Linked DNA regions of Homo sapiens. The protein of the gene in region 2 interacts with the protein of the main gene of each other region in a pairwise test. Each region holds a gene or a part of one and is shown on either strand. Other genes may lie near its edges. The genes, in order: HSF2BP, ZNF648, CCDC57 and MTUS2.

Region 1 (7,024 bases), on a different chromosome or scaffold from region 2:
TGTGCTTTGGAGGTGGCCAGGAAGCCCATAGGAGGAGGGAATGCTCAGTGTGTGCCCTGAGAGCTTTGCCACTGTCAGAAAGCACCTGACAGGAACAAGTTTGATTGTATTTGACACATGCCGGCACTACCACAGAAAGTTTTAGCAACAGATAAGAGGGGACATCTGTACTCTCAACTTCTTTTTTCATACTTCCTATTGAAGTTTTCATCTCTACTCTCAGGCATTTAATTTCTAAGACTGCTGTTTATTTTTAATTGTCTTAAAAAATAGCATCCCATTCTTGTTTAACAGATGATATAGCTTCTTTTACCTCCTTGAGGAAGATATTAATAATAGTTTTTTAAAACTTTTCTTCTCACTGCACAATCTCTTTTCTTTGTCCTCCTTTTGTTCCTGTTTAAAATGATAGCCATTTATCTTTTTCTCAGGTGTCTGGTGATGTGTGGTTGTCTGGTCATGTTTAACAGTGGGATTTATAATGCCGATTGGAAGCTGTGAGCATATGGGTGGAGCTTCTGAACTTTTCTGCAGTGTGAGCTGGTGCATCAATTAATTGGGAACCCATAGGTCAGTATCTTCGACTGTGTTGTCTTGGGTTGTTCAGATTGTCTGGAGAAGACTCACCCACCCTTATTTCTGGAGGGATGAAGGCCTATAAACTCCGGAAACAAAGTAGAGATAGAGGGAATGTCTTAGAGCTTGTAGGTATGTGTTTATCTAATCCACATGTTTTCCAGACAGAACCTCCATCCTCAATTGTGCCTGATGTTTCACCTCCAGAGATTCTTTAGAAAATAAATGTCCAGGCCAGGTGGGGTGGTTCACACCTCTAATCCCAGCACTTTGGGAGGCTGAGGTGGGCGGATCACCTGAGGTCAGGAGTTCGAAACCAGACTGGCCAACATGATGAAACCCCGTCTCTACTAAAAATATAAAAATTAGCTGGGTGTGGTGGCAGGTGCCTGTGATCCCAGCTACTCAGGATGCTGAGGCAGGACAATCACTTGAACTGGGAGGCGGAGGTTGCGGTGAGCTGAGATTACGTCACTACACTCCAGCCTGGGTGACAGAGTGAGACTCTGTCTCACAAAAAAAAAGAAAAGAAAAGAAATGTCCAGTCTCTACTAGGGAAGGGCATTTTTCCAGAGGCAGGGAATAGGGGAGAGGGTCCAGGGATCTAATTTCTTATTATTATTTTTATTTTTTTTTAGTTTTGAGATGCAGTCTTAACTCTGTCGCCCAGGTTGGAGTGCAATGGCGTGATTTCAGCTCACTGCAACCTCTGCCTCTGGGGTTCAAGTGATTCTCCTGCCTCAGCCTCCCAGGTAGCTGGGATTACAGGTGCCTGCCATGACACCTGGCTAATTTTTGTATTTTTAGTAGAGACAGGGTTTCACCATGTTTTTCAGGCTGGTCTCGAACTCCTGACCTTAGGTGATCCACCTACCTTGGCCTCACAAAGTGCTGGGATTACAGGCGTGAGCCACCAAGCCTGGCCTTCTTCTTATTTTTAATATAAAGCCAGATTTGTTGAGTTATAATTTACATAGAACAAAATTCACTTGTTAGTAGACAATTGTATGAGTTGTGACATAAAACTATCTCAGCATATAACTCATATGCTGAGTTATGTGGTAAGTATGTGTTTAAATGTATAGGAAATTGCCAAATTGTTGTCTCAGGTGGTTGTACCATTTTATTTATTTTATTTTATTTTATTTTATTTTATTTTATTATTTTATTTTATTTTATTTTATTTTATTTTATTTTATTTTATTTTATTATTTTATTTTATTTTATTTTATTTTATTTATTTTATTTATTTTTGAGACAGAGTCTCGCTCTATTGCCCAGGCTGGAGTGCAGTGGCACGATCTCGGCTCACTGCAACCTCCACCTCGTGGGTTCAAGTGATTCTCCTGCCTCAGCCTCCCAAGTAGCTAGGATTACAGGCGTGCACCACCACACCCAGCTAATTTTTGTATTTTTAGTAGAGATGGGGTTTCACCATGGAGGCCAGGCTGGTCTCAAGTTCCTGACCTCAGGTGATCTGCCTGCCTCAGCCTCCCAAAGTGTTGGGATTACAGGCGTAAGCCACTGCGCCTGGCCTGGCAGTACCATTTTAAATTTTCACCACTAATCTATGAACATTCCAGTTGTTCCTCATTCTTGTCAACACTTGGTATTTTCAGATTTTTATTTTTTAATTTTAGCCATTCTAATAGGTATGGATTTAATTTCCATTTTTCTAATAGCCATGATGCTGAGCATCTTTTTGTGTGCTTGCCATTTGTGTATCTCCTTTGGTGAAGTGTCTTTTCAAACACTTTCCCTATTTTTATTGGGCTGTTGTGTTACTGAGTTTTCAGAGATGTATGTGTATTCTGGATTTAGGTCCTTTATCAGATACGTGTTTTGCAAATGTTTTGTCCTCATCTAGTGGCTTGTCTTTTCATTGTGACTGTCTTTTGAAGAGCAGATTTTTAAAATTTTGGTGTGGCTAATAAATTATTTAGTTGTATGGATTATGCTTTTGGTTTTGTGTCTAGGAAATTGTTACCTAATTCAAGGTCACAAAGATTTTTCTCCTGTTTTCTTCCAGAAGTTTTAAAATTTGGGGTTTTACATTTAGGTATGTTATTAATTTTTGTATAATTTTTGTATGTTAGGCAAGGTATAGATTGAAGTTCTTTGTTTTTGCATATGGATGTTCAATTTTTCCAGCACCATTTGTTGTAAAGGTTATTCTTTCTTGATTGAATTGAATGTATACCTTTGTTGAGAGTTCACAAAGCTGTGGTCTGTTTTTGGATCCTCTAATTTTATTTCACTTATCTCTTTGTCTGTCGCTCTGTCACTTGACCAGTACCACACTCTTTATGGCCATAAATGTTGAAATCTAGTACTGCAATTCCCCAACATTTCTCTTTCTCTAAATTGTTTTGTCTGGTCTAGTTCCTTTGTTTTTCCAAATAAATTTGAGAATTACTTGTTGATTTCTGCTAAAATTTCAACTTGGATTTTGGTTGGCATTGCATTGATTATATAGATGAATTTGAGGAGATTTGACATTTTAACAATATTGAGTCTTCTAGTCCATAAATATGGCATATTCTCTCCATCTATATGTCTGTGGATCCTTATATCTGTGTTTTGTTGTTTTCAGCATAGAAATCTTGCACATAGTTTCATGAGATTTATACTTAAGTGTTTCATGTTTTGGTGCTATTATATAATATATGGTAATTTTTAAAAAACATTAGATTTTTAATTTTTTGTTATAAGTATGTGGATACAATTGACCTTTGTATGTTGAATTTGTATTCTGTGACTTTGCTAAACTCAATTAGTTCTAATAACTTTTTTTCTAGTTTCTTTGGGATTTTCTGTATAGACAATCATATCATCTGCAAATAGAGACAGTTTCATTTCTGCCTTTCTAATCAATAAACCTTTTATTTCTTTTTCTTGCCTTACTGCACAGGCTAGGATCTCTAGTATGATTTTGAATAGGGGTGATAGGATATTCTTGCCTTGTACGTCATCTTAGGAAAGAAGCATTCAGTCTTCTATCATTAAGTATGATGTTAGCTGTGTGTTTTTTGTAGATGCCCCTAATCTGGTTCAGGATGTTCCTTTTTATTCCTGTTTTGTTGAGGGTTTATTATTATTATTACTGTTATGAACAGATGTTGAATTTTGTCAAAAGGCTTTTCTGCATTTATTGAAGAGATAATTTTTTTTTTCTTCTTTAGTCTGTTGTTACGGTAGGTGATGTTGACTGATTTGCAAATAATGAGCCAGCCTTCCATTCCTAGAATAAGTGTCTATTGGCTGTGAAGTATTATCCTTTTTATATATTGCTGAATGCAATTTGCTATTTTTTTGTTTAGGATTTTCGTGTCTTTGTTTATGAGGGATATTGGTCTGTTCTTTTATTTTAACATCTTTATCTAGTTTTGGTGTCAGTGTAATTCTGGCCTCATAAAAAAAAGTTGACTTATTTCCTCCTTTTCTGTTTTCTGGAAGACTTGTTTAAAATTTCTATTATTTCTGTTCTAATTTTTTGATAGAATTTGACAATGAAGCTCTCTGAAATGTTATACATTGCATGACTGTTTACCTTTAAATAATAATCCGCTGCTTCAGGTATAGTGTAAGTACCTTAAAACAGTGTTTTCCCATCTATTGATCATATTTATTTCAGATTCTTTTTCTGAAATTCCTGTATTATTATTCCAGGTTATCTGTGTGTCTGCTTCTGTTGATTGTCACTTGACAATGAGCCTTTTGTTTCCTTTGCCTTCTTTTGTTTGTTTGTTTGTTTGTTTGTTTGTTTGTTTTTGAGACAGAGTCTCACTTTGTTGCCCAGGCTGGAGTGCAGTGGCGCAATCTCAGCTCACTGCAACCTCTGCTTCCTGGGTTCAAGGGATTCTCCTGCCTCAGCCTCCTGAGTACCTGGGATTACAGGCGTGCGCCACCACACCCAGCTAATTGTTATATTTTTAGTAGAGATGGGGTTTCACTATGTTGGCCAGGCTGTTCTCAAACTCCTGACCTCGTGATCCGCCCGCCTTGGCCTCCCAAAGTGCTGGGATTACAGGTGTGAGCCACTGCGCCTGGCCTCCATTGCCTCTTCATTGTAATTTTTGATTTCAGTGTTGGACATTGTGTGGAGGGCAGTAGGCAAGGTCAAAAAACTTTTTCTGTAATGGGCCAAATAAATATTTTGAGTTTTGAGAGCCACGTGTAGTCCCTGTTGCATGTTATTCTTCTGGTTTTTACTTTTAAAAAATTACCCTTAAAAAATGTAAAACCTGGCAGGCTGCAATGGTTCATGCCTCTAATTCTGGCCCTTTGGGAGACTGAGGTGGAAGGATTGCTTGAGCCCAGGGGTTTGATACCAGCCTGGGCAGTGTGGTGAGACACCGTCTCTACAAAAAAATGTGAAAAATTAACTGGGCGTGGCCACATGTTCTGTGGTCCCTCTTTCTTGGGAGGCCGAGGTGGGAGGATGGCTTGAGCCCAGGAGATTGAGACTGCAGTGAGCCATGATTGTACCAGAGTACTCCAGCCTGGGAGACAGAGCAAGACCCTGTCTCCAAAAGGAGGAGGAGGAGGGGGGGGGGAGGAGGAGGTGGTGGAGGAGGAGAGGAGGGGGGGGGAGGAGGAGGAGGAGGAGGAGGAAAGAAGAAGAAGAAGAAGAAAAAAAAAGTAAAACCATTCTTAGCTTGCAGGCTGTACAGAAACGGGTCATGGGCTACCTTTGGCCTCTGGGCCATGCGTACCCTCTCTGTAGAGGGGAATGAGGTGGGTAGATAGTGTTATATTCAGGAATGGCCACTCCTCTTTTTCCGCTGGGTTTTCATTGTTGGGGAGTTAAGGTGGGTCTGGGTTTTGTTGTTGTGTATGTACCTTCCATCCCACTGGCTTCAAATTCCTCTAACCTTTCCTTGAGCTTAGGATGAGGGCTGAGTTGCCAAAGCGTCTTCACCCATGGCTTTTGGCCTTGCCTCTGTGTCTGCCTTAGCTGCCCCTTATCTTTGGCAGGTCTCTACTAGAGAAAGTTCCCCTCCCTTCCCCCAAAGTAGGAGGACTCTAACAGGCTGGCTTAAGATGGCTCCTGGACCCTCCCTGAGGGCTAGAGCAGATTGCCTTTTATCTTCCCTGGCCACAGCAGTCTTCTGATTCTGTAGGTGAGAAGCTTCTTGTTAGGGCTTAGTGCTGTGGCAGCTCCCACTGAGAGACTGTTCAGTCTGCTCTTTCAGTCTACATCTTAAAAGGTTTTTTTTTAATTTTTTTATTTGTTAAGTAAATGTGCTAAGAAAGAGGTGCTGATTTTGAGCCTGGTTCCAGTTGCAGTACCCAGTCAAGGAGTGAATTTACGGCATCGTAAAGGCTGCCAGTAGAGAGGAATGGTAAGGAAAGTTGGCTCCACTCTGGTGATGGATTGAAGCTTCCAGTGGGTTTGTCTAGCTATTTTTTAGTGGTTGCTACAATGTATGCAAGGCTACCAGATTCTATAAGTCCTGGGGCCATTCCCATGGAAAATAAACAACGTGAATTTTATATACCCAGTGACATTGTGTAAACTCAGTGGCCCTGATAAGTGCTGTATCTGTATGTGGTCCCTGAGGGATTTGCTGCAATTGGAGTGAAAAAGAAGTAATACTTTTTAAAACAATCTTATAAGTGGACAGAATGCTACTGTCGACAAAGAGTCAAACTCTGCAAAATATTTGAAGAGATTTGTTCTGAGCCAAATATGAGTGAGGTCCTGAGAACATGTGCCCAAGGTAGTTGGGTGCGGCTTGGCTTTATACATTTTAGAGAGGTGTGAGACATCAATCAAAAACATTTAAGAAATACATTGGTTTGGTCCAGAAAAGTGGGACAAAGCTGGGGGGCGTGGGGCTTCCAGGCTATAGGTGAATTTAAACATTTTCTGATTGATAAAGACCTGGGATTGATAGAAAGGGAATGTTCAGGTTAAGGTAAAGATTGTGGACATCCAAGTTCTTTTGAAGTCTTATGGTGGCTGCCTTAGAGACAATAGATGACAGATGTTTCCTATTCAGATCTTAGTTAATCTCTTTAGGATTAGGAGGGTCTCGAAGAAAAAGATCTAGCTATGTTAGTAGAGATTCTTTACAAATGCAGATTTTCCCCCACAAAGAACAGCTTTGCAGGGCCATTTCAAAATATGGCAAAGAAACATATTTTGGGGTAAAGTATTTTTATTTTCTTTCTTGTCTCATAATGTTATGCCAGAGTCAGGTTGGAAAGTCATGATATATAGGGTTAAATAAAACCCATCTGATGAGAATTTGTGATTTGTAGGACATGACTCCCCAGACCCCTTAGATAGGAATTTGGGCAAGATAAAAAAAATCAGAGTTTAGTCCTCACTAGCAAACAGAGAAAGCCCTCATCTTTCTAGTTTAACACTTTAAAATTGTATGACTGTAATATTTGAAGATGATGGTTATTAGACTATTGAGTTTTTTGATGCTGCTTTTAT
Region 2 (7,962 bases):
AAGTAAATGGACCAAGATCATCAAACAAACAGAAATGGGATTAAAGCCAGGCCTTTCTGACTCAAGGTTGTGTACTGAGTTCCTGTCCAATTCTGCTTTCTGCATGTGTATTCATACTCAGCAAAGTTTGATGCCTGCATGAAAAACAATATTTAAAGTCTCCACCATGTATTGGCCACTTAACTGCCTCTATCACTCCTCCTCAAGGATGATGAAGGGCTGGGGCAAGAAGAAGATTAGATAGTATACCTCACCAACCATTCACACTGTTTGGAAGCAGCTCAGGCAGATTGCTGTGATGACAGCTGGCAGCAGAGCATGGGGAAGAACATAGGCCAGTGTGGCTCATGTTCCACCACGTCACTCCACTCCACCCATCCAGTCCATGTCATTGATAGGCACAAATGAGCTCCTGCACCATGCCCATCAAATGCCCTTCTCTCTCCCAGATGCCTTGTGTTACTCCTTCAGTCTCTGCTTTTTCCTCTTCCCAGACAGGCGGGCAGACCCTTGTTTTCACTACTGCCAGTCAGCAGCTCAGAGGAATTGCCAGATTTTAGAGGCAGACTTGCAAATAATAACCAATACATAAAAGAACACCTACTTTGTTTCCATGCTTAAGGAACTGGGCAGAATGACACAGATTTCAGAAGTTCCTAAAAGCAGGAAAAGGATGTGGCCTTAGGGAAAGGGCCTTCCGCTCTCCATTTCTAGTGGTCCTTACAGTGAGTGTTGGAAAGATTAAATGAGACAGTAAATGTGCTTGTGCTGTCAAAAGGGAAACACACCCAGGAAACAAAAGGGATTCCTGTCCCTTGGAGTCTGAGCAATAGGTTGACCAGTGGGATAGGCAAGACCTGGGATTCAGATCTGAGGCCTGATCTGCACCCACTATGTGCCACTCATTAGGATAGTGAAGTCTCACATAGATAAAGGCACATGGCACTTCCAAACAGCGTTCTTAAGATGGCTTGGAGGATGTATCAGGGTAGGTGACTCAGGGAGATAAGGGGCTTGTGTACACCTTGTCTCTTGATGTAGCCTCCAGGCCAGTCCTGGTCCCATTCACCACTAGGTGGACTATCCCATACCAGTGAGATGGCAACACCAGTGTGTCTTGAAAACCAAGGAGGACTCACGTGGACAATTTAACGTGGAAGTCCCAAGGTGTCTGCTAATTACTCGGTTGTTACGGTTTCTAGAAATAAAGCATGATGGAAAACAGGCTGTCCAGGCTGAATGAGGAATAGGTGATGAGACTGTGCAGGCACTTAGTGGGAACCATCTCTCTGGGCAGCAAGGCTGAGGGAGAAGAATGCCTTCTGGGGGAATGACTATAGTGACCACAGATACACAGGTCACATAGCCTTGGGGAGGAGGGACTAAGACTTTCCAGGAGGAAATAAGGGTAGAGTCAAGCAAAGGCCAAGCATGCAGGCTCTGAGGGACAGTGTTTGGGAATCTAATGTGGTAGTGGTTAAGAGTGCAGACTCTGATACCTTGGCTCAAATTGCAGCTCCACTATGTAGGAACTGTGTGGCTGTGGCCCTTAAGCTGCCTATGGCTCTGTATCCTCCATCTGTAAATGCAGGTAACACTAGTAGTAGCTGCTTCGTTAGGATGTGATGAAGATTAATTGGGGCATTGTGTGTGGCATGCTAGCATAGTGTTAGCACTAGTAACTGCTCAATAAATGTACCATTGCTGTGAGGCTGGGAATGGGAGGGACATACACACACACACTCATCCCAGCTCCAACTTTCATCTCCACAGGCTCCTTCACAATCAGTGAAGAATTAGGTACTTTCTTGCCAAAGATAGCTGAAGCTCAAAGCCCGTACCATATGGACACTTGGGATATTTTGAGCAACCATGTTGGGATGCGGGCTAGTGGCAGCACCAACTGATAACGTGGCTATGGGAGCTATTTTAAGTGTTCACCTACTCTCCCCATCCCATGCTCTCCCCAAATGCCAATGGTTCTCAACATTTTTTGGATCATGGCCCCTTCAAGAAATGGATGGCTACCAAGGATCCTCTTGTCAGAACAGCACATGTCCCCATATCTGCCACATTCTGCACTTTATTTCAGAGGCTCTATGGACTTCAGAATTTGAACCCTATTCCAGATATTCAGACTCAGAGACCTAGAGGTATGTCTCTGCTGCCTGCCTCTTTCCTCTGAAACCATGCCTTAAAAACACCAAGGGGACATTGAAACCTGCTTTTCTGGATCACATTCTGAAAACTGCTGTTCAGAAGAGTTGCAGCTTCAACAGGGCCACAGGGATATAAAAGCAGCCCTGGAATGATGTCTTCCCTAAAAACAACAAAATCATCAATAATGAATAGGAAGAACCAATATTGTGAAAATGGCCATACTGCCCAAAGCAATTTATAGATTCAGTGCTATTCCCATTAAACTACCACTGACATTCTTCACAGAATTAGAAAAAACTATTTTAAAATTCATATAGAACCAAACAAGAGCTTGTAGAGCCAAGACAATCCTAAGCAAAAATAACAAAGCTAGAGGCATCATGCTACCCAACTTCAAACTATACTACAAGGCTACAGTAACCAAAACAGCATGGTATGCTACAAAAACAGGCACATAGACCAATGAAACAGAAAGAGAACTTAGAAATAAAACCACACATCTACAACCATCTGATCTTCCGAAAACCTGACAAAAACAAGCAATGGGGAAGGGATTCCCTATTTAATAAATGGTGCCAGGAGAACTGGCTAGCCATATGCACAAAATTGAAACTGGCCCCTTCCTTACACCTTACACAAAAATTAACACTAGATGAATTAAAGACTTAAACGTAAAACCAAAAACTATAAAAACCCTAGAAGAAAATCTAGGCAATAACATTCAGGACATAGGCATAGGAAAAGATTTTATGAAATTGCCAAAAGCAATTGCAACAAAAGCAAAAATTGACAAATGGGATCGAATTAAACTAATGAGCTTCTGCACAGCAAAAGAAACTATCATCAGAGTGAACAGACAACCTATAGAATGGGAGAAAATGTTTTCAATCTATCCATCTGACAAAGGTCTAATATCCAGAATCTACAAGGAACTTAAGCAAATTTACGAAACCCCCCACAAACAACCCCATTAAAAAGTGGGCAAAGAATGTGAATAGACACTTCTCAAAAGAAGACATACATGCAGCCAACAAATACATGAAAAAAGAGCTCAACATTACTGATCATTAGAGAAATGCAAATTAAAACCACAATGAGATACCATCTCATGCCAGTCAGAATGGCGATTATCAAAAAGTCAAGAAACAACAGATGCTGGCGAGGTTGCGAAGAAATAGCAACGTTTTTACGCTGTTGGTGGGAATGTAAATTAGTTCAACCATTGTGGAAGACAGTATAGCGATTCCTCAAAGATTTAGAACCAGAAATACCATTTGATCCACAATCCCATTACTGGGAATATACCCAAAGGAATATAAATAATTCTATTATAAAGATACATGCATGCATATGTTCAATGCCGCACTATTCACAATAGCAGACTTGGAATCAACCCAAATGCCCATCAATGATAGACTGGATAAAGAAAATGTGGTATATATACACCATGGAATACCATGCAGCCATAAAAAGGAACAGGATCATATCCTTTGCAGGGACAGGGATGGAGCTGGAGGCATTATCCTCAGCAAACTGGCAAAGGAACAGAAAACCAAACACCGCATGTTCTCACTTATAAATGGGAGCTGAACAGTGAGAACACATGGACACAGGGAGGGGAACAACACATATTGGGGCCAGTTGGGGGAGTGCGGGGTGGAGAGAGCATCAGGAAAAATAGCTAATGCATGCCGGGCTTAATACCTAGGTGAAGGAAGGGTTGATAGGTGCAGCAAACCAGCATGGCACATGTTTACCTATGTAACAAACCTGCATATCCTGCACATGTATCCCGGAACTTAAAATTTTTAAAAATCGTCAATAATAACAATGAAAGCAGCTAACGTTTTTGGGTACTTGCTATGTTCCAAACACCGAACTAAGCTCCTTACATGCATTATCTCATTTAATACTCCCCAAACTTCCATGATGGCAATAGTATCCTGGTCCCTGTTTTGCAGATGAGACACTAAGGCACACAGAGGTTAAATAACTTGCCCAAGATCACACAGCTAGTAAGTAGTAAGATTCAAACCCAGACCCAGACCGTGCTGTCAATCAGTATACTTTGTGACCACCTAGTGACATCACAGGAACCACACTTCCATCACCTATTTTAATGCCCTGAATGTTCATCCTAATAAATGCACATTAGACTTGAGTGGGTAAAAATTCTGAATGTACTGAGTCTTCTACCTTGGGCCAATCCTTCTCTTCAAAATGAACCTGCATGGGAATCAATGCTGAAAGTGGAAAGAGACCCCAGACAGGCCTGGCATCTGTATGCATAAGACAGAAAACCATCTCCCTGCACCCCTACTCCCAGTTAAAAGGCTGTGGGCATCTTTGAGCCAATGAATGGGCTGCTACAAAGAATTCTGGGAATCCCAACCCCTCACAGTTCTGCAACTCACAGTCCTGCAAAAGGTGGGTACTAGAATAGGGAGGTGGGCATATAGGCCAAATACTCTGTTCTGCCTTCCAGGAGGGAAAAAGCATGCTACCCAGGAAGCTCACAAGTGACATGTGGCCCATGGGCATACCAGGGCTAAAGTGAAGGATGGACTGCTCTGTGGAAGGAAGGAGTGAAAGTGAACAAGAGGCATAGGGCCACCTGCAGGAAGACTGAGAGGAGGGAAGGAGGAAGGCTGGCTTTGGCAGGGAGGGGAGGCAGGAGCAGAGGGAGCCAGAGGATCGGTTCAGGCAGTGAGAGAGGGCAGCCCCACTCTATTTCCCAGGCTGCTCTCTGGATGCAGGCAGGAAGGTTGAGTGTATTACACTGGCCCCACCTCCAGAGGCTCTCTCTGCAGCCGCTGGACTGGACACAAAGCGTGAGAGACAGAGACACCATCTCTGCTGATTTGTACCTAACTGGTTCCTGTTGCTGAGAGCCCACGTGTCACAGAAGCCAGGGCAGAGGCCCCACACTGCTGTCTGCATTTCCCAGGTAAGCAACCGTCTGTGTGTGAGCCAGGAGTGGAGAGCAAGGCCTGAAGGCGGTGAGCAGAGAAGAAAGTAGGAGGCGGCTGCCTAGGATGGACTTCAGTACAATCTGGAAAGAATGAAGGAAAGAAGAGGGGTATGGGCTGGGGTTGCAACAAGCCCTTAGGGTAGGCTTCTGCAGAGTGTTGATGGATGTATGAGGTTGGGGAGTCAAAGGCTGCATTTGGTCCACTCTTGGCTGGCAAGTGCAGAGGAAGTTCCAGCAAAGGACTGCTCTGACAGCCTCTGGGGACTAGCACATCTGGGGAGCAGAGAGGCCCGCCATACCATGGCATCAGTGTTCCTCTTTCAGACCAGGTATATTTGTGCAGACTTTGCCAGAAAATCCCTCCCTGTGCCCCTGCCTGCCTCCAGGTCTTCCTGGTGGTCGAGAGCATGCGTGTGGCAGCGACAGGAGGAAGAAAGCAGGACATATTCACTGGGGATATGGCTTCAGATGGAGGAGGGATACCTCATCTGAAAAGAGAGTCTCCTGACGGGCTCTGGAGAGGAGATTGGTTAGCTAGTGGAGGGCTGTGTGCCACCCTAAGGAGGCTCCCCTGTGGCCCAGAGGAAAAGAATGACACACAGACTGTGGAAAATGGGGTATTTGTGCTGGAGGTGGGGTGGGGAGCGGGTAAAGTCAGTGATCTGTGAACAGTGCCACAGAAACAGGCAGTATGTTGTCGTAAAGAGGGAAAGAGACCTAAGACATGTGTTTCATACAAATCCAGCATCCCTTTGCTGTCCCTGCTGGGGGACCTACAGCCCCGGATCAAGCCTGCTGGTCTGAGCAAGTTCTATGAGGTTGGCTAGTGGTATGTCCCCTCTATGAACTACACATTCACTCCCTAAGATCCACTATGCTGAAAATATGTCAGATCTGGGCTCCTGTCAAAAGGCATGCCAGCTACCCTCTGCCATGTGATGGGTGAGGGAAGCAGTGAGAGAAGAGGAGTGGTCCCTGGGCTTTAGGGCACAAAGAGACGTGAGATGCTGAATTCCAGTCACAACTGCAATGTGTCCTCCCTCCATCCATGGCTTCTGTATCCAGAGCAGAAAGTGAGGATTCCTCCATACTGCTCCCTCTTCATACACACAGGGTAACTGGGCTCATGATCAGGCAGAAACCAGGGAAGAACAGTTTAATGAGATGGGGATAGGGTTAACTGTACCAGCCAAATACAAAGATCACTCCTTTTATCCAGTCTGAGATGGCAGTGAAAGGTGGGCAGAGGTAGAGAGAAGGAGCTTTCAGAAGGTAAATACTCAGTGACTAATACTCTTGAGCACCACAGGCAGTGGCCTCTGCAACATGGGTCCTGGCTCTGATGGGCAGCCACTGGCCTCTCTCTTTGGCGGAGGGCAATCTGGGTCAATGAAAGCAGGGAGGAGCCCAGCAGTGAGGCCCTGTAGCCAAGGTTCCTTGGCCCAGAAAACACAAGGGGCTTTGATGCCTGCAGAAAGCCACGGCTTTTCACCCCAGGATGCTGCAGCTGCTCTTGGGCAGAGCCCAGCCCCAGAGCAGGCTTCAGTCTGAAGGCCACAGCTGGGAGGCAGGACCATTTGGGGCTTAATGGCCTTAAAATTAGAGAGAAACCCCACTGCTGCTGTCTATGAGCTGTGTGGCCTTGGGCAGGTAAGTAACCTCAATAAAGCTCAGTTTCCTGGTCTGTAAAATTGAAAGAATAATATAGTAATAATAGCATCTATCTTTTTTTTTTTTTTTGAGATGTAGTCTCGCTCTGTCACCCAGGCTGGAGTGCAGTGGCGCGATCTCAGCTCACTGCAAGCTCCGCCACCATGCCCAGCTAATTTTTTTGTATTTTTAGTAGAGACGGGGTTTCACCGTGTTAGCCAGAATGGTCTCAATCTCTTGACCTCATCATCCGTCTGCCTCGGCCTCCCAATAGCATCTATCTTAAAGTTTGCTGAGAGGAATAAATGAAATTATGTTTGTGAAGCACTCAGCATAGTGGCTGGCTCATAACGTGTGCCCAGAAAAATGAGAGTTTTAATACCCCCTCTGGGATTCTCAGAAGTTTCTCTCCAGACTAAAGCAGATTTAGCCCTCTGGTCAACAGTTGTCCCCCTGGAGAGGCCCTCAGTACCCTGCCTCTCTAGTAACTCCTTTAAAATCTGTCACTCATCCAATCCTTGTTAACCAATCCTCCAGCAGGCTTTCTCCATGTCTTCAAGCTAAAATAAAATAAGTTTGAAAATAAAACCCAAATGGCTCTCATGTCTCATGCATTATGTTTGAAATCCTACATCTGGCTTCTTGAGTCAGGAGATGTGTACCCCAGTGGACATCTGTGGTATGCCAGGGGATCAATATGGCACACTTGGGGGAAGATTAAACATTTAAACCCAGGTAACTTTAATACTATTTTCTATAAAACAAATGCGACTGGCAGGGCACAGTGGCTCATGCCTGTAATCCCAGCACTTCGGGAGGCCGAGGCAGGTGGATCACAAGGTCAGGAGTTCAAGACCAGCCTGGCCAAGATGGTGAAACCCTGTATCTACTAAAAATACAAAAATTAGCCGGGCATGGTGGTGGGCACCTGTAATCCCAGCTACTCAAGAGGCTGAGGCAGAGAATCACTTGAACCGGGAGGCAGAGGTTGCAGTGAGCCAAGATCGCGCCACTGCACTCCAGCCTGGGTGACAGAGCGAGACTCCGACTCAATTAAAAACAAAAACAAAAATGAGACATAAAATGTAAACTCTCCTGAATGTTTATGATGAAGCAAAATTTCAAAGACAGGTCAAGCTCTCAGTGGGCATCCTCTGCCCCCGGGTGCTTATGGGTAGCCT
Region 3 (7,024 bases), on a different chromosome or scaffold from region 2:
GGTTTGTCCAGCTATAAGAGCTAGGTTCTATAAAATAGCTTCAACGCAGCACTCTGTCCATTTCACAGCTGAGAAAACTAAGGCTGCTAAGTGGCTACGTGAGGACTGACAGCAGGTCAGTCCCTCAGAACCAATGCCCCTTCCCACCCAACACCCTGCTCCTGGAAGATTCACCACCTGATATGGTTTCGATATTTATCCCTGCCCAAACCTTTGTGGAATTGTAATCCCCAACGGGGGAGCTGGGGCCTGGTGGGAGGTGTTTGGATCATGTGGGCGGACCCCTCGTGGCTTGGTGCCGTCTTTGTGACAGTGAGTTCTGGGGAGATTTGGTCATTTCAAAGTGTGTGGTGACAATGAGTTCTAGTGAGATGTGGCATCTCTCCACCACTCACACTCCCCTCTTGCTTCGTGCCTGCTCCTCTTTCACCTTCCGCCATGAGTAAAAGTTTCCTGAGGCCTCCCCAGAAGCGGGTGCCAACACTGTGCTTCCTGTACAGCCAGGAGAACCGTGAGCCAATTAATCTTTCTTTATAAATTACCCAGCGTCAGGTATTTCTTTCCAGCAATGTGAGAATGGTCTAATATACCATCCGAGAGTACATTCTTTTGTTCTTTTATTTGTTCATCATGGACTGATATTTTGGTAAAACCATAAAAATAAAGTGCTACAAAAAATAAAATTTAAAAACAAAAATCACAAAAACCAATAAGCTGGGCACAGTAGCTCTCGCCTGCAATCCCAACATTTTCTGAGGCTGAGGTGGGTGGGTCATTCAAACTCAGGAGTTCCACGCTGCAGTGAGTGGTCTATTAAAAGATAAAGTTTCTTCTGGCTGGTCCTAGCTGCCCCCAACCCTTTAGAGGTCCAAGTATGAGCTCGATTTGGACACAGAAATCCCCCACAACTCTTCTCTGGTGTCCACACAGGGGAACTGCATGGCCTAAAAGGGCCACACCCAGTTGGGGGACAAGCACAAACTTCCGGCCTGGTGGGACATGGCCGGGGTGCTGCTGCCAGAGCAGGAAAAAGCCCCAGCCTGTCTTAGGGTACCTCTGTATCTCCGGGCACCTCTGCATCTCGGGGCACAGCAATGGTTGTACAAAGTCCCAACTCCCAGAGGGAGCGGGTACAAGGGCACAGCCAGGCTGAGCACCGGCTGTGACGAAGCACAAGGAGGAGGTGGGTAAGGGGCTGCAAGACCCGTGGGCCCCTCCAGAAAGGGCTGGTCAGCAGGGCACACCCGCTGGGGGCACGAGGGCTCCCTGGGGGTCCTGAGACGGCGCTTCTCTGACGAGGCTCTGGAGCAAAGACGGTCTCCTCCATCCCACATGCTTCCTGCGATGCAACCCCCGCGCCCAGCACCCTAGGACCATCACGCCACCTGGACCACCTCAGCCTGGCTCCTCCAAGCTGCTGCGTGCCCACCCATTGCCGGAGCTAACAGGGTCCCTACCGACCATCTCAGCACTCTCCCACGCTCCTGTTCCTCGTCTCCCTCAGCTCCTACAACGGCCCCACCGTCCACCCCGTGTAATGATCCTTGACCTCTTGCTGTCTCCCACCTTGTGCCCACACCTCGGCCACCACAGTGTCTTACCACAAGAGACCTCAACTGGCCTCTGCTGTGCACTCCCACTTTTTTGGCTGCCAAAGGAATCTTTTCAAAAATGCTTTACCAGGGCCGGGCGCAGTGGCTCATGCCTGTAATCCCAGGACTTTGGGAGGCCGAGGCGGGCGGATCATAAGGTCAGGAGATTGAGACCATCCTGGCTAACACGGTGAAACCCCGTCTCTACTAAAAATACAAAAAATTAGCTGGGCGTGGTGGTGGGCGCCTGTAGTCCCAGCTACTTGGGAGGCTGAGGCAGGAGAATGGCGTGAACCCCGGAGGCGAAGCTTGCAGTGAGCTGAGATCGCACCACTGCAGTCCGGCCTGGGCAACAAAGAGAGACTCCATCTCAAGAAAAAAAAAAGGCTTAACCAGGCTTCCCATTCCACTGAGGACATCTGGACCCCAGGCTCCTGCCTGTCGCTGCCACGTGCCCTCAGAGCCTGGGATGTGTGGCAGGTGCCGCTCTGTCTGCAAGGTTCCTCCTAACCGCAGGGCAGGCTCCTCCTGCCAGTGGGACCTCAACCTGAACATCACTGCAGGGAAGCTTTCCTAACTTCCATCTCACGTTGGCACAACGCCATCACCCCAGTGTCGGGTGTAGTGAGTCCCACTGTCTGGCACAGTCTTGGCGACTGAAACATTTTGTACACAGAGGACATGCACACACCTGTGCACACACCTGTGCACACACAGGGAAAGAATTGGACTATCAGCAAATACACATTAAATGATGGAACACCACTGTGATCTCTGATGACTCAGAACCCTTCACACAGTGCCCGTGAGTCATGACAACGGTTCTCTGCAGAGCCTGAGGTCTGCGAGGTCTACGGGCCTCTTCTCTGAGGGACTGCTGTGGCCCCCGTCCTGTACCAGCTGCCCTGCCACTGGGCTTGCCTCCTTAACTCATTGGTCGCAGCCACCCATGGGGGTTGCCGTTCTGAGAATCTGATCATGCAATCTTATCTGGCCTCAAATGTGCCCGCGACTCCTGACCATTTTCAAAATAAAGTCCGATCTCCTTGGCACAGCGTATGAAGACAGACCGAGGACACGGCCCAGCCTGCGTGGCTCCAGCTGCTCCCTGCAGGCCCAGAGCAGCCTTTATCTGCCAGTTCCTGTGCACGTGCTACTCCAGGTCCCCATGCCCCCATCTCCCCACTGGGTGAGGTTCCTTCCCACCAGGTCTCAGGACTCAGCGGGTCACCCTGTTTTCAAAAGCTTCAGGCAGCCAGGACAGGCAGATGGCACGTACCACCCCCTCTATGTGAGATGGGTGCTCCCAGGCCTCTGTGCTCTGCACAGAAGAGCAGCCTGAAAAATCCATACAGCAAGTGACTCGGTGCAGCACCCGGTGAGAGCCCAGCATCTCCAGCGCTTTATCCATCACACTCAGGACCCATAAGAAGCCCCACACACCAAGGGCCTGTAAGTCAGCCGGGCTCGGCTCGCCTTTCCTTCTGACCTCATCATAGAACGGCCTGCTCTGTTTCTGTACAAATCCCATCTCGGGATGATCCCCAAAGCCCCAAGGCTGAGATTAATTGGCTTTCAAAAGCACGGACTCAGCATCTGGACGCAATCTGCCTGTCGGCCAGCAGGCGTCCCCAGCAAGCACCTGGTTTCAAGAAGGACCATGAAGCTTCCGGGTTGGGGAGCGGCAGGAGAAGCCGCCGGGGAGGGAAGGCCTCGCTGTGCGTTCACCCTCTTTCAGGAGAACCAGTGGGGCTCCCTGAACCAGCCAGCTCCCAGCAGGGGCTGGAACAGCATGGGTGGGCATCCCATCACTTTGATTTTCTCATTTTAAAAATACTGAGCTGAGCTAACGGTGATGTTGTAGGTTTACCTGTTGTGGTACAATGACACATCATGGTTTTCTTGCACAGTTCCTGGCTCATAACTCTCACACGTCACAGTCTTTTGTTGCAATGTTGGGCGTGTCAGGCCTCAGGAAACAGAATCCTTCCAGGTCTCCACTCTCACCTGACTTTCCATTGTAGGTCATAAGATCCTCCCCAGAGCTCCCACCCTCTACCCTGGGGGAAGGAATGCTGACTTCAGGAAGCCTCCCTAAACACCCAAGAGGACAGGGTGTGGAGAGGTTCCTGGGGAGTGGTGGGTGGGGTGTGGGGGGGTCCTCCAGGAAGCCTCTTCCCCCATATCTCCCCTTACGCATCTCCTCATCTGTATCCTCTGTAATACCCTTTATAATAAACTGTTACACGTATGTGTTTCCCTGGGTTCTGTGAGTCACCCCAGCAAATCAATCGAACCCAAAGAGGGGGCTGTGGGAACCCCAACTTGAAGCCAGTGGTCAGTCAGAAGTTCCGGAGGCCAGGACTCGCGACTGGTGTCAGAAGCGGGCAGTCTTTGAACCACCATTGCAAAATTATAACTCAGACAGTGAAAGAGATCTGACCTAACCAATTCCATCGTGCTTCTAACCTCCAAGCTCTCCTTGTTCATTCCTGGGTGTAGGCCGAACTAAGTTTAGGAGGAACTTAGTTTATAGTTTGAAACAAAGACAGTAACAGCCCTTTCCCGAAACAAACCCCCTTTTTGCCTGGGGACTAGACTGCCTTTGTAGGACTAACAAATTAGCCAAAAGATTAGAAATTATGGTTTAGGGCCAGGTGCAGTGACTGGCCCCGGTTGTCCCAGCACTTTGGGAGGCTGAGGCTGGATCACTTGAGCCCAGGAGTTCGAGACCAGCCAGGGCCACACGGCAAAACGCTGCCTCTACCAAAAATACAAAAATTAACTGGGGCGTCGCTTGTAGTCTCAGCTACCAGGCAGGCTGAGGTGGGAGGATCGCTTGAGCTTACGACGTTGAGGCTGCAGTGAGCTGTGATTGCACCACTGCACTCCAGCCTAGGTGACAGAGTGAGACCCTGTCTCAAAAATAAAAAAAAAAAAACAAAAAAGAAATTATGGTTTAGGAGTCATGCAGCTACAGGCTACAAGATTCTGACCTTCCCCAAATTGTTCCTGGGGTAACATCACTATTGTAAAACCTAAGATCAATCAGTGCTTGAGATATTTTGCAGACCCTGCACTCCATGGATCAGCTGGCACCCCCGGATTGATAAACTGGCTCATCCGATCTTGTGGCCCCCACCCAGGAACTGACTCGGCGCAAAAGGACACCTTCGACTCCCTACGCTTTCATCTCCAACTCACTGGCCCCCTACACACTAAGTTATCCTTAAAAACTCTGATCCCCGAATGCTTGGGGAGACTGATTTGAGTCATAATAGAACTCCGTTCTCCCGCACAGCCGGCTCTGTGTGACTTACTCTTTCTCTATCCTAATTCCCGTCTTGGTGAATCGGCTCTGCCTGGGCAGCAGGCGGGGTGGACCTGTTGGGTGTTTATGTCTTGGGTGTTTATGTCTTGGGGACTGAGCCCTCACCCTGTGGTCTGACCTCTCTCCAGGCAGGCGGTGTTGGAACTGAACCGAAGGACACCCGCCGAGTCTGCGGCAGAACTGACTGCTCATGTGCTGGTGAAAACCTCCCTCTCCCACCACATTTGATCACAGAAGTCTTCCTCTGTGCTGATGATTCTTGTGGTATCAGAGTAGAGGAAAAACAGTTTGAGTTTTCCAGAAATACCTGTGAATAAAATACACATAAAATAAAATCTACTAAAAATACACAGAGAAGGGGTTTCTCCATGTTGGTCAGGCTGGTCTGGAACTCCCAAACTCAGGTGATCCACCTGCCTCGGCCTCCCAAAGGGCCGGGCGCAGGTGTGAGCCACTGCGCCCAGCCCAAATATATATATTTTTATGACCTCCATGTATAAATATATTTAATACCCTTAACTTATTATTATTATTTTAGACAGTCTTGTTTTCTTGCCCAGGCTGGAATGCAGTGGCGCGATCTTGGCTCACTGCAACCTCTACCTCCTGGGTTCAAGCTATTTTCCTGCCTCAGCCTCCCAAGTAGCTGGGATTACAGGCGCCCGCCACCATGCCCGGCTAATTTTTGTACTTTTAGTAGAGATGGGGTTTCACCATCTTGGCCAGGCTGGTCTTGAACTCCTGACCTCGTGATTCACCCGCCTCGGCCTCCCGAAGTGCTGGGATTACAGGCGTGAGCCACCGTGCCTGGCCTAATACCCTTAACTTATAAGACACTTCCTGGGACTGGAAGGCAGGTCTGGGGTGGCTCATTCACTTTGTACTCAGGACAGAGGACTCAATCTCAGCATCCTGAGTAGCTGGGACTACAGGCAGGCACCACCATGCCCAGTTAATTTTTTTTTTAAATTTCTTGTAGAGATGGGGTTCCACTATATTGTCCAGCCTGGTCTTGAACTCCTGGCCTCAAATGATCCTCTCACCTTTAAATGTACTGAATTTAGCTCTTGTGGCCCCTCTTGGATTCCAGAGAGTGCTGCTAAGCCCTCTGGGAGGCCAAATTCAGTAATCTACTCTTTTGTTTTGAAACAGAGTCTCAGTCTGTCACCCAGGATGGAGTGCAGTGGCACAATCACAGCTCACTGCAGCCTCGAATGCCCATCTAAAAGCTACAGCTCAAGCGATCTTCCCACGTACTTATAGGTGTGAACCACTGCACCCAGCCTCTCATCTACTCTTTAAATAGGTCCAGGGGACAAAAATTATGTACCTGTGACCCCGTGTTTTTTTTCACTTCCTCCACTGACTGCCGAAGAGTAGCCACAGCCATTTCTAAAACTGAAATAAGAGAGATGGGCAGTAGGTCTGAATTCTGTCAGTGGCACTTGCTGGAGAAGAGGGGCACCACTACCACGAAGGAACATGAAGGGCTGTTTTCTTTGAACGTGCATTTGCCAAAAAAAAGTGAGTAAGTGAGAAATAGAAGTTGAAGTCGAAGTCTTGTAGTTGAGTTTAGACTTTGCGGACTTTTAGAACCACGTATACATGTTTCATGTGCCAAAAACAAAGCACAACAAAAAACAAAAAAACTTAAAATCAGTAAGGACTCAAAATGAAGTAGAAACAGGTGAACCTAACTTGATTACAAGTGCGTAACTTGTAATAAACTCACAGGTTTTTTTGGTGTTTGTTGTTTGTTGAGATGGGATCTCACTCTGTCACCCGAGCTGCAGTGCAGTGGCATGATTATAGCTCACTGCAGCCTCAAACTCCTGAGCTCAGATGGTCCTCCTACCTCAGCCTCCAGAGTAGCTGGGACTCAGACACACGCCACCATGGCTGGCTAATTTATTTTGTAATTTTTTATAGAGATGGGTGTCTCACTTTGTTGGCCAGGCTGGTTTCCAACTCCTCACCTCAAGCGATTTTCCCCCCTCAGCTTCCCAAAGTGGTGGGACTACAGGCGTGAGCCACTGTACCCAGCCAGTTTTTAATATATACAGAGACACAGATATACTGAAATAGATTTGCATGTGTATAG
Region 4 (7,024 bases), on a different chromosome or scaffold from region 2:
AGTTAATGGAAAATGTATTTTCAGATCTGTACTATGTGTTTACCTAGTTAAAAACCTGAGCCTGAGTTATCTCCTCTGGTCGTCTGCTCGAGTGAGGCGATGCTCCCAGGAAGGTTTGAGCAAGTTTCACCAGAATGGAAGTTCTAGGGCACAATCTCATCAACCGCTGACTTCATAGCACCAAAAACAATGTCTAGCACATAGCTAAAGTCAATAAATATTTATTGAAGAATCATGTTTCCATTTTTTCCTAAGTTTAATAATAACATAACGTTACTGTCACTTTCTCCTGTAGCTAGCAGTTTGGCCTAGAATACAACCTGTGGGCAGTACCTTTTATATATGCAATTCTGTACTCACTAAGTCTGTTCATATTATCAGTGTTTTATTAATATTAAACAGGAAAAAAAGAGAGAGAACTAAATAAACTATTCCTTTAAGTTACAATAAAAAATAGTGCTAAGGGCCATGCATGAAAAGATACATCTGTTAATTAACTCTGTTCTAAATCACAGCACATTTTATGTGTCAAACTTATATCTCAGGAATCATAAGCATTTAACAGTATTCTTTAATGGGGGCTATAAAAGCTTTGATCCAAGCTGTTGAAGAGATAAACCCTTAAATTGATACTCATTTAATGTTGAAATAGATACAAAGTCCTCCTTCAAATTGACATTGTAGAAACAAAAGATTAGGCCTTTAAAGTTTTATCATAATCACACTGTAAAATATGCATGACTGTTATAGTAGATAGTCCTTGGCTATAGCAAATTATATTCCTATGAAAGAACATTCTACATCTGCACTCTGATAAATTTTTTACCATTCTCTACTTACTCTCACTATCAATCTCTGGTTTTTCTCATATATACCCTTTTTTAATTTTAGTTTCTAAATTTTGGGTCCCATTGCACATTGCTTTGAGCAGGTGCTCTTATGAAGAAATTAATATCATTTCCAAACTACATCTGTCAGGTTTTAGGATTGCAATATGCTGATCTTAGTAGTTACTCAGTGCCTTGAAACTGAGTTGTTTTTAGGGATTAAAATTCACCACATTCTCTCTCAACAATGATCTTAAGGATTTCAGTAACTTCAATGCCTGTCATTTTGTTGGGTAATTTGTTTCTGGTGAGATCGCAAATTCTTTAAAAGGGGGAAAACTGCGCCTTTGATGTCTAGTCTGTGCATTTTTAATTAAACAAGGGAATCTACAGAAAGCTTCATACTCTTTTCCTTCATCTTTACTGACAGAATACAGCAGGTGATGCTGCACAGTCATAAAACAACGTTTGGAAACCCCAAACGTTGCTGTTCCCCTCCCTCCATCCCAATGGAGGGTTTTTAGAGAACTCACTTTGAAAGCAAACAAAAGAACCCTATGATTTCAAACAAACTCGTTAAGTCAAGGCATATGAACAAATACATTCTTACCAGGCTGTCCCTCTTCCTATTTGCCCTGCACTGTCCTCAATGGGATAGTGTGCCGTGGAGACAGAGGGTACAGGTGAAGGCTTTGTTAACAAGCCACTGGGATAGTGGTGGGGGAAGGGTGTCTGGGATGGTTAATTTTATGTGTCAACTTGGTGGGGTTGCAATACCCAGATATTTGGTCAAGCATTCTAGATGCTGCCATGAAAGTATTTCTTATATTAGATTAACATTTAAATCAGCAGACCTTGAATAAAGCAGCAGACCCTTCAGCATGTAGGTGAGTCTCATCTAATCAGTTGCAGGGTTTAATAAAAACAGACTGACTCCTCCTAAAGAAAAGGGGATTCTGCTAGTAGATCACCTTCAGACCCAAGCTGCAGCACCAACTCTACCCTAAGTCTCCAGGCTGCTGTCCTGCCCTGCAGATTTTTGACTTGCCAGCCTCTACAATCATGAGCCAATTTCTTAAAATCAATCAGTCAATCAATCTCTCTCTATATATATATATAGAGATTATGTGATGTACCCTCTCTATATATACATCTATATCTGTCTCTACATATGAGATATATATATTGAAACATATATAGATAATATATATTGAGAGACATAAGTATAGATGAATATAGACCTGTGAACACACACCACACACACACACACACACACACACACACACACCTATTAGTTCTATTTGTCTGGCAAACCCCAATCGATGCAGTGCCCCCCAGAGATGAGTGGCAGCAGACAGTGAGGAAGGAGAGCAGCCCTGGATCACACCTCTGTACACTGCACGCACATCGCCTCACTCCATCCTCTCAGCCAAGCCCCTTTCTTCCCACCTCCCTTTACCAAAAATAAAAAGGGCTCCCAAGTTGTTGGAGGGAGGGAGTGTCCCTGAGACCTCAGGAGAGCCAGTGGCAGAGGGCACCTGTTTAGGTAAACATATTTAATACCTGGACATGACTAGATCCCAGATGATCTTGGAAGCCACTTCTGGAAGTTTTAAATGCCTGTGCTGTTCCTGCCAATTGGGAAAAGAGTTCCTCTCTCAGAAGAGTGCTTACTCTTGATTTTTCCACTTCTACCCATGCTATGTAACCAGCAGGGATCTGTCGATAAGGATGGAAGAGTCTGAAGCTGGTTTGAGTTTTTATTTTTAAGAGGTTCTCATTTTATTTAAAAAAAAATCTGGCTTCTATAACTGAAAAATACTTCCATTGCAACACATTATCAAAAATGTGTTCTTTTCCTAGAGACCAGACTGCAGCCACCCCATGATGAGCTTGGGGCACACTGGCAGAAGAAGTCGGCTGTTTTTTCTCCCTGCACTGAGCTCAAACACAAGAGGGGGACTCGCTGGGTTACATCATGTCATAGCTGTAGCAGGTGGCCAAGGACCAGCCTGTTCCCCACTTTTGAGTAAAGAAGGTTACCACAGAAATGAGCCCAGCGCAACCTGAGAAGAGGCCTGGGTCTCGTTCTGATGATGGCAGAAAATGGTCCCCAGATACAGGGAGGGAAACTGACATTTCAAACGAACTTGTAAAGTCGAGGCCCAAAAACAAATAAATTCTTTGAAGAAGACTTTGGGATGCTCGAGGTGCGAGGCCATGATGCTCTCTCCACACCAGTGGGGTCTCTCTGAACCCCTCAGAACCGCCAAAGCCACACAATGTCCATACAATCCCATTTCCTTGAGTCTTGACGTGGTGCCTAGATAATGAAGTAGAGAAAATAGTTTGGGGAAAACTATGCATGTAATATATAAACTATTCTTGGAGGAAGCAGAACAACACAGAAAAGAAATATACACGAAAATATAGAAGGGCACAAAGAAAGAATTACAGACAATGTGGGGTTTGGGCCTACATATCCAAATCAATTTCCCTCATGAGTTTGTTTTTATAGAGAAAAATCTAGGCTCTGGCTATGGTTTGGATATGGTTGGCTTGTCTGTGCCAACTCTTATGTTGAAATGTGATCTCCAATGTTGGAGGTGGGGTCTAGTGGGAGGTGTGTGGGCCATGGGGGCAGATGCCTCATGAATGGCTTGGTGCCCTCCTTTTGGTAATGAGCAAGTTCTTGCTCTATTAGTTCCCATGAGAGCTGGTCCTTAAAGAGAGGCCTGGCACCTCCTCCACTCCCCTCTTGCTCATCTCTCACCACGTGATCAATGCACACGTGGTTCCCCTTCTTCTTCCCCCTTGAGTGGAAGCAGCCTGAGGCCTCACCATAGGCAGATGCTGGTGCCATGCTTCCTCTCCAGCCTGCAGAACCATGAGCCAAATAAACCTCTTTTCCTTATAATTTACCCAGCCTCAGGTATTCTTTCATAGCAACACAAATGGACTGACAGGTCTCTTCATGGAACCTCTGCAGTGATTCCCTGCCTTATAGAAGAGCAAAGCTTCAGAGCCTGACCCTGAGCCTCAGAGGCCCAGGTGGATGAATGTTTAGAAATTTGAAAATGACTCACTATAACTAAACTCAGAGACTGACGTAAAAATCCAGAAGGGCAATTTGTTCACTTTTAATTGGAGACCACTGCCTAAAGCCAGACTCAAGTGTCCTCTAGCCAGAACACGTTCTCATTGCAGGGCACAGAGTAAGAAGCCACTTATAAACAAGATGCCATGCAGCCCCGCACAGCAAGACAAACCCCTGCCAAGCTGACTGGACCCCTGAATTCTCCAGCCAGAATCCTCTCTCTAGAGATGTGAGGTAGGAAGTCCGTTATAATCAGAGGCCTGTTGGCAGGCCCAGAGTCAGAACACAGGGAGCAAGCTGTGTGATTTGGTTGCTAAGGACCTGCGGCAAGGCAGCACAGCTGGTCGGCTTGTTGGGGCACCTCGTCAGTGATTGCCTAAGTCAATGTCTGCTGCCGAGAATGGATTCAACTTTGTCTTTGTGCTAGATATGACAACTTCTGTTGTGATTGATGCATTCTTTAAATATGCCAATATATCTAACCAAGCTAGAGTCCAAATTTGGACTCAATCATCCTATCTCTAGAAACCCTTGGTACACTTTTGTTTAGTTCCAACACATATGGAGTTCATGATTCAGTTATCACTCAACATTTTTTGAGCACATACTTATAAGAAGCACCATTCTAAATTCTGGGAACACGGGGAACAAAATATTGAAAACAATCCCTTCCCTCATGGAGTTTACATTATAGTCAATTCAGGAAAACTAAAAAAGTATTTATGGCAGGTGGAGGTAGGTGCTAGGAAGAAATAAATCAGAGAAAAGGGATTCAGAGAGAAGATGGGTGGCCTTCCCAAGGAGATAACATTGGAACACAGACCTAAAGGGAGTGAGGGAGAGAGCCATCTGGATAACTGGGAGAACATTCCAAGCAGAGGGAGGTGCAAAGGTCCTGAAGCAGCAGAGTGAGAAAGGGAGAGTGGAAGGAGAGGAGGGCAGGTAGCTGACGGACCCCCAGTGAGCACATCCCATCCTAAAGGCAGAGCCATCCTACAGGCTCCAGCTTGTGTTCCAAGCAACCTGGGCAGCCCTGGAAGGTGTTAGAGACAGGATGATCTCATCCTGCCCTTGTTTTTGAGACTGAGTCGCGCTCTGTTGCCAGGCTGAAGTGCAGTGGCGTGGTCTCAGCTCACTGCAACCTCCACATCCTGGGTTCGAGCAATTCTCCTGCCTCAGCCTCCCCAGTTCCTGGGACTACAGGCACATGCCACCACACCCAGCTAGTTTTTGTATTTTTAGTAGAGACGGGGTTTCACCATGTTGGCCAGGATGGTCTCGATCTCCTGACCTTGTGATCTGCCCATCTCGGCTTCCCAAATGCTGGGATTACAGGTGTGAGCCGCTGTCCTTGGCTCCTGCCTTACTTTTAACTGATCACTCAGCTGTCATGAAGAGACTCCTTCAGGAGACAAATCTTAGTTCTGAGGTCTCGAAGGATGACTCACCATAGCTAAAAAGGACAGCACAGTGCAGTCTGAAACTGCACAGGCCTGAGTGAGACTCTCAGAGCTCTCCTTCCTTTGTGGTGGGTGACTTAAAGCTCTCTGTCTGTCTCTGTATCTATACGGTGATAAAAACTGCAATACCGGCTGGGCGCGGTGGCTCACGCCTGTAATCCCAGCACTTTGGGAGGCCGAGGTAGGCGGATCACGAGGTCAGGAGATCAAGACCACGGTGAAACCCCATCTCTACTAAAAATACAAAAAAGTAGCCAGGCGCGGTGGCGGGCGCCTGTAGTCCCAGGTACTAGGGAAGCTGAGGCAGGAGGATGGCGTGAACCCAGAAAGTGGAGTTTCCAGTGAGCCGAGATCGCGCCACTGCACTCAAGCCTGGGCGACAGAGCGAGACTTCATCTCAAAAACAAAGAAAAAGCCAAAAAAAACATAAACAAACAAAAAACTGCAATACCAACCCTCAGGGAATTACTGCAAGGATTAGTGAAGATTAACAAAGATCAAACGCTGTATTATATGGGCCCAGTGTAGAGCTGGCCCTCAATTATATGTTAGTTGTAATTATTACTTTTATTTTAAAGAAAGAGTCCATGCCTAACACACCGTTTTCTGCTCATTTGCTGTTCTTCACGCATGCGAATAAGAGATACTCCCAGGTAGAAAATACTCCCCATTGAGGAATGAGTCTGATCTATTTGAAGAACACAGTAATTTTGCATTCTTTCTTCCTTTAACCTGGCTTATATTATATTATATTCACTTATTTAAACATGGAAGCCTATTTAAGGCATACTCATCTAATTTCATATGAATTATAGCAAGTGAAATTTAAATGGGTCTCCTTAGATATTGGGTACATCTTATTAAGATAATCAGACTCTTCTAGTTAAAAATGGTCATTTCTCTAGACAATCTCCTCTAGTCAAAAACTCCATTTCTTCACAAGTGTATCCATGAAAATCTGTAATTCACTTAAAGAGGACATTTTACTTTCATAACTCATTGAAAATATGTCACAGATATTGGGACAGTCAACTTATAGACCATATCATAATGACATTCTCTTACCTCCTGCAAAAACTTTTCACTCATTTGACTGAAAGGATGTCCCGGGGGCTTGATTCCAGACACCATCAATCCGGAACTGAAGACCCTTGGCTTCTGCAGGTCTGGCTTGAATTTCTCATAGAGGTTGGCAGATGGCTTCAGGTCACCACCTGCTGCCTTCTCTTCGTGGGGAAGAGGCATGGTACATGTGGGCGGGGCATATGGAAGCCCCACTGGAACCAGCGAGGCGTCCACCTGGCCCAGGGCCTGGGGATTCCTCCTGATGTAGGTGATGATCTTGGGCCTCACATGCTTGGGCTTGGGCATAATGATGGGCTTAGTTTCTGTCCTCTCCTCTGTTTTTTCAACCTGATAGTTCTCCATTCCCTCCTGCGAGGAAGGTGTGTCCTTGGAATGTGTGAAGACAGGCTTGGGGATCCCACTGGGGCAAGTGTTCTTGTCAGGCACTTTGGGGGACGTGTTCAACAAGCGTGCACTATCAGTAGGGGGTGGAACTACCAAGGGGGACCCCGCATCCATACCGAACACGCTAACATCCTGAAAACTGCTACTGGGTGTTGTAGGCTGGTAGGTCA

Evidence for each region.
Region 1: the proteins of ZNF648 (region 2) and HSF2BP interact in binary tests that used the Homo sapiens proteins (3 or more experiments, as listed by UniProt).
Region 3: the proteins of ZNF648 (region 2) and CCDC57 interact in binary tests that used the Homo sapiens proteins (3 or more experiments, as listed by UniProt).
Region 4: the proteins of ZNF648 (region 2) and MTUS2 interact in binary tests that used the Homo sapiens proteins (3 or more experiments, as listed by UniProt).

The regions. Positions count from the first base shown.
Region 1 is NC_000021.9:43,530,469-43,537,492, reverse strand, and holds part of HSF2BP (heat shock factor 2-binding protein), read left to right. Parts: intron 1-7,024. UniProt on the Homo sapiens protein: Meiotic recombination factor component of recombination bridges involved in meiotic double-strand break repair.
Region 2 is NC_000001.11:182,058,713-182,066,674, reverse strand, and holds the start of ZNF648 (zinc finger protein 648), read left to right. Parts: upstream 1-4,962; 5' UTR 4,963-5,107; intron 5,108-7,962. UniProt on the Homo sapiens protein: May be involved in transcriptional regulation.
Region 3 is NC_000017.11:82,202,819-82,209,842, forward strand, and holds part of CCDC57 (coiled-coil domain-containing protein 57), read right to left. Parts: intron 6,322-7,024; exon of another isoform or gene 6,314-6,321; coding exon of another isoform or gene 6,254-6,313; intron 5,231-6,253; coding exon of another isoform or gene 5,029-5,230; exon of another isoform or gene 3,515-5,028; coding exon of another isoform or gene 3,463-3,514; intron 1-3,462. UniProt on the Homo sapiens protein: Pleiotropic regulator of centriole duplication, mitosis, and ciliogenesis. Critical interface between centrosome and microtubule-mediated cellular processes. Centriole duplication protein required for recruitment of CEP63, CEP152, and PLK4 to the centrosome.
Region 4 is NC_000013.11:29,026,329-29,033,352, reverse strand, and holds part of MTUS2 (microtubule-associated tumor suppressor candidate 2), read right to left. Parts: coding exon 6,450-7,024; intron 1-6,449. UniProt on the Homo sapiens protein: Binds microtubules. Together with MAPRE1 may target the microtubule depolymerase KIF2C to the plus-end of microtubules. May regulate the dynamics of microtubules at their growing distal tip.